2 separate regions of the Homo sapiens genome follow, and region 2 is linked to region 1. The links come from fine-mapping of genetic effects on gene expression. A gene starts in region 1. The other region holds a variant in brackets. All regions are shown on one strand. Distances are between the middles of the regions.

What was found.
Region 2: its variant is fine-mapped to the expression of PRKAB1-AS1 in skeletal muscle (GTEx, PIP above 0.99).

Annotation. Positions count from the first base shown.
Region 1 is chr12:119,666,730-119,669,645 of GRCh38, reverse strand. PRKAB1-AS1 (PRKAB1, TMEM233 and CCDC60 antisense RNA 1) reads left to right here and starts at 1,519. Exons shown (of 3, transcript NR_188494.1): 1 at 1,519-1,703. PRKAB1 (protein kinase AMP-activated non-catalytic subunit beta 1) reads right to left here and starts at 1,513. Exons shown (of 7, transcript NM_006253.5): 1 at 1,243-1,513. The coding sequence starts at 1,401. RefSeq lists enhancers at 183-818, 1,257-1,666 and a silencer at 1,767-2,036.
Region 2 is chr12:119,568,846-119,571,761 of GRCh38, reverse strand. All of the region lies in intron 1 of PRKAB1-AS1 (PRKAB1, TMEM233 and CCDC60 antisense RNA 1), which reads left to right. Among named protein-coding and RNA genes, the nearest start is that of TMEM233, 23 kb to the left of the region's middle. The variant G/T (reference allele first, on the strand shown) is at 1,474.

The DNA of each region.
Region 1 (2,916 bases):
GAGATTGTGCTACTGCCCTCCAGCCTGGGCAACAGAGTGAGACTCCATCTCAAAGAAGGAAAAAAAAAAAATAAGTAGGGTGGGTTCAGTGGCTCACGCCTGTAATCCCAGCACTTTGGGAGGCCGAGGCAGGCGGATCTCCTGAGGTCAGGAGATGGAGACCATCCTGGCTAACACGGTGAAACCCCGTCTCTACTAAAAATATAAAAAATTAGCCGGGCGTGGTGGCGGGTGCCTGTCGTCCCAGCTACTCGGGAGGCTGAGGCAGGAGAATGGCGTGAACCTAGGAGGCGGAGCTTGCAGTGAGCCGAGATCGCGCCACTGCACTCCAGCCTGGGCGACAGAGCGAGACTCGGTCTCAAAAAAAAAAAAAAGTAGGCTGAACCGGCCAGCACCGTAGCTCACGCCTGCGATCCCAGCACTTTGGGAGGCCAAGGCATAAAGATTGCTTGAACCCGGGAGTTCGAGACCAGCCTGGAGAACATTGTGAGACCACCGTCTTTTTTATTTTTATTTATATTTTTTTTTTGAGACGAAGTCTAGCTCTGTCGCCCAGGCTGGAGTGCAGTGGCGCGACCTCGGCTCACTGCAAGCTGCGCCTCCCGGGTTCACGCCATTCTCCTGCCTCAGCCTCCCGAGTAGCTGGGACCACAGGCGCCCGCCACCACGCCCGGCTAATTAGTGAGACCACCGTCTTTTAAAAAATAAGTAGGGTGAATCAAAAGTGTTGGGCAGAACTAAACACCTCTGGCAACTGCCGTCAGCTGTTCCGCTCTACTTTCAGCTTGTATATGTACCTGGTTTGCCTCCAAAATGGATAAATTCCCAAACTAACTTTTACAAAAGCTCCAGTTTGTGTAAAGGTGAGGGAATTTGTCTCAAAGCAGTGCAATTAATTACACCTAAGAGAAAAGCAGAAGCTGGGGCTCAATTACTGTTAGCTCGACTCTGAATTAATTAAGAATTTGAAACTCTGTCCCAGAGCTGCTTTCTCCTTAATGATGTTAAACCAAGTGAGCACCTCCTCCCTCAGGGTGACTTTCTCATATTGGTAATTAGACACAGGTTCTTGGACCGCTAAGAGAACTCTTACAGGACCATCTGGCTTTTAAGTGCACCGGGTAATGTACCACCTCCCTCTCCGTTCTGGTGTTTTTCGAAAGGATGTGACGGGAATCTAGTGGAGGGTTCCTCTCCTCAACATTAGTCAAGGGGAATCGGGTTCCTCCACACCGCTCGCACCTTGATTTCCTCGGAGTGGAAGAGGTCGGCGTCTTCGGGGCTGTCCATCAGGATCTTGGGCCTGTCCCCGTCCTTGGTGCCCCCCGAGCTGTCCCTCCGGGGCGTCTTATGGCCACCATGCCGCTCCAGCGCGGCGCGCTCACTGCTGGTATTGCCCATGATGGGGGTCTGCGGGGACACAGGGAAGGCGGACGGCGCCTCACTGCAGGAAAGGGACCCTGAGCAAGGGACTCCCGGAACCGCGGGTCCCAAGGAGCCTGCGGAAGGAGTCGGAGCACCAGGACACCACGCCCCTCGGGCCGGGAGCCGGTTCCGGCTGAGTCGGCAGGGTTGCCGAGCTCTCGCAATCGCGCTTTACCTGCCCAGGCAAGCCGCGGCAAGAACGCAAGGGGCGCGAAGATAAACCGACACTTTCCCAACCGCTTCACCACCCCTCAGCGACTTCCGCTTCCGGCGACTCCGTAAGTCGGCCCGGCCTAGGGCGTGGAGGTGGCGGCGGCCAGCTAAACGCGCGAGGCTATCTCGATTCCATTTCCGCTTCCGGTCTTGAGCGGTGCGGTAACAGGTGCCCCGGGCCGTCTCTGCAGGCCTCGGAGCGCGCAGTCGCAGTCAGCAGCCGGCCGCCCAGGGCCAGGCCCAGGACGAGGCGCTGCCGAGGGCCGGCAGGGGGCACCCCAGCGCGCGGGCAATCTGAGCCGTTCATGCGCTGGGCTGAATAATGCCATTTAGCTATCTTTGCTCACTTATAGTTGATTCTACACTCTGCAGCCAGAGGGATCTTTCTAAAATGCAAATCTGATTCAGAAACTCCACTTCTTAAAGCCCTTTTAATGCACGTGTTCTCACGCTTTACAGTGCATTAGGTTAACCTGGAGCGCTTGTTAAATGCATCCCCCACTGCAGACCTGCAGAATCATGATTTCTACAGATTAGGGTCGGGGGTGCAGGCAGTCTTGCAGGTATTTGAAAAAATGGCAGACCATAAGATCTCTGGAAATTTCTTATGTCTAGTAGGTTGGGGGTTGTAAAATGCTGGAGTTATTCGTGTATTTTTATTGAGTGTGCAATCTTTTGATAGGTAATTTTGCAAGATATCTTGTAATCACTTCGGAAACATCCTTCTGCATAAGATGCATTAGCGTTTGTCATTTACTCTGGTCAGTGCTTCAACAAGAAGTGCATACAAATACGGTAGTAAAATATTCTCATCTTCTCATTGTCAGTCATTGTCATATTTTGTGGGTTTTTTGGTGTGTGAATATCTCAAAATACTTTGCATTTGCCGGGTCAGGTCATGCATTTCACCCACTGAACATTTATTTAGTACCTAAAAAAGTACCAGACATTGTGCTAAGGAAATGAGGAACACAAGATGACTAAGATAAGGTTTCCTGGGGGGAATTCAGCAGTATGCATCAAAATTTAAAAATGCACCTTCATTTTGACACACAATTTTACTCCTAGGAAACTTGTGCAGAAATACACACATGAAAATTATTTACAAGCATTATCTACAAAATATTTACATGCAAAAATATATTCTAAGATGCACTTGTCACCCCCCATGCCCCCATATATTTTAATTTCTGAAACTGGATGCTTTTTACAATAATGGAATCTTACACTTGGTGAAATAAGGAAATGAAAAACTACAAAATCCTAAAAGTTGTTCAG
Region 2 (2,916 bases), 98 kb after region 1:
GTAAATATTCTCACCAACCTGAGGTCACTAAGTGTGATGTTGGAAAGAGATGTATAGTTAGCACACCATTATATAGTGTTTCTACCATATATATGCTATAGAAAGAAATAACCTCGAAGCATCAATAATAATAAAATATTGTAAAATAATTGGAAAACATTGAATTTTTATTATCTTTGTTTTATTTATTTATTTATTTATTTTTGAGTGGGAGTCTCACTCTGTTGCCCAGGCTGGAGTGCAGTGGCACAATCTTAGCTCACTGCAAACTCTGCCTCCCAGGCTCAAGTGATCCTCCCACCTCCGCTTCCTGAGTAGCTGGGATTACAGGTATGCGTCACCACACTTGGTTAATTTTTGTATTTTTAGTAGAGACAGAGTTTCACCATGTCAGCCAGGCTGGTCTAGAACTCAAGCGATCCACCCACGTTCGCCTCCCAAGGTGGTGGGATTACAGGCAGGAGCCATAGTGCCTGGTCATCATCTTTGTTTTAAATATAATTTATTTAATTGTAAGTTCATATAATCATTTTAAATAATGGCTGCATTTAACAGGTGGTTCACAGAATTAATGTAAATTTAACAACTGGCTCCTCAGAAGTTGATATGAGCCAGCTCTGGCACATCACTGGGTTCAGTCTTCATGAGGTTTGTCTTATTTCTGGTTTGCCCTCACTTTTGGCGTCTTATTTCTGGTTTGCCCTCACTTTTGGCGTATAGCCCTTTTCAGTGAAAGGGACAGCCCTTTCATTGAAATTCAAGTGAAAGCCTGGGTGTGCTTTCCTGTTATATGGTTTGGCTCTGTGTCCCCACCCAAATCCCATCTCGAACTGTAATCCTCACGTGTGGAGGAGGGGAAGTGATTGGATCACGGGGCAGTTTCCCCCATACTGTTCTTGTGATAGTGAGGAAATTCTCACAAGATCTGATGGTTTTAAAAGCAGCAGTTTTTCCTGTGCTCTCACTTCTCTCTCCTGCTGCCACGTAAGATGTGCCTTTGCTTCTCCTTTACCTTCTACCGTGATTGTAAGTTTCCTGAGGCCTCCCCAGCCACTCGGAACTGTGAATCAATTAAATCTCTTTCCTTTATAAATTACCCGGTCTCGGGTAGTTCTTTATAGCAGTGTGAAAACAGACTAATGCAACCTGTGACCTTTCTCCTTGTTAGATCCTGAGCTCTTATTTTGCTTCTCCAGTACTGTTGTGATGGTGGAAAGCTTTGCTAAACAGCTCAACCTCTTATATCCACTTTCTTCTCAGTTTCTTAGCTTGGTGCTATTGACAAATTGGCAGAAGATGGCATAGAATGTCAGACTAACCTCGGCGGGCTCAGAGAACTTTAACCTCTTAAGCCCTGGCTGCTTTGATATCTTTGCAATGCCTTCAGATAGATTTTTTGGGCATTTATTAATCTTTTCAAATTGCTTTTGCCAGGAACATTCTGATACAGGCTAGTTCATCAGAACCAGAAGT[G/T]AAGTCCCCTGTTTATGACGTTGTAAGTAGAAGTTTTTATATTGCCAAATATATCTGAGCATAGAACTCAGTTTTCCTTTATGATAACTCGTTTAGAAATCCTTTATTAAACTCAAGGTCATTCATATTTTCTTCAAAAATTTAGACTTTTATTTTCACATTTAAGTCTTTTTTTTTTTTTTTTTTTTTGAGACGGAGTCTCATCATCCAGGCTGGAGTGCAGTAGTGTGATCTCAGCTCACTACATCCTCCGCCTCATGAGTTCAAGTGATTCTCCTGCCTCAGTCTCCTGAGTAGCTGGGATTACAGGTGCACACCACCAAGCCCAGCTAATTGTTGTATTTTTAGTAGAGATGGGGTTTGGCCATGTTGGCCAGGCTGGTCTTGAACTCCTGACCTCAAGTGATCCACCTGCCTCGGTCTCTCAAAATGCTGGGATTACAGGTGTGAGCCACCATGCCCGGTCTCACATTTAAGTCTTTAATCCATTTGGAGCTGTATTTTTTAATAGTGTGAAGTAGAAATCAAATTAAAAAAAATTTTTTTACAGATAGCTTATTGTCCTAGTGGTGTTTATAGAGTAGGGGTATACTTTTCCTAGTGACCTGTGATATTTCTTTTGTCGTATGTCTAGTACTGTGTCTGCACTCTCTACTCTGTTTAATTAAACTATTTTTAATATTTTTGCACCAATAAAGTACTATCTTAATTGCTATAGTTTTCTAAGGTAAGTCTTGATTTCTTTTTCTTTTCCAAAAAATGTCGTGGCTGTCTTTGGCTTTTTTCTCTTTTGGAATTAGCTTTTCAAGTTTCACAAAAAACTTTATTAGAATTTCATTTGAAATTGCCTGAATATTTATATAATCAATTTGGGGAGAAATGTCTTTCTTGATATAAATATGTCTTTAATGTCTTTCAAGGGAGTTGTATAGTTGTATAATTTTCCACTTGAGGCTCTGCTTATTTTTAAAATATCTGTATTTCTGGCTACCAGTTTATTTTGCCATCATCATTGAGTATTTTATTTTATTATTTATTATTTTTTAAGAAGGAGTCTCGCTCTGTCACCCAGGCTGGAGTGCAGTGGCATGATCTCGGCTCACTGCAACCTCTGCCTCCTGGGTTCAAGCCCAGCTAATTTTTGTATTTTTAGTAGAGATGCAGTTTCACCGTGTTGGCCAGGCTGGTCTCGAACTCCTGACCTCAAGTGATCCGCCCGTCTTGGCCTCCCAAAGTACTGGGATTACAGGCGTGAGACACTGTGCCTGGCCTGTTGAGTATTTTAAATGTTATATTTCTGTTTGTTGTTGATGCAGATAAATACAGTTAAATTTTATATCACTATTATATTCAATTACCTTGCTAAATTGCCTAATTTATTCTAATAATTTATAGAGTCTTTGCAGTTTCTATGTGAATAATCACATTCATTGCAAATAATTC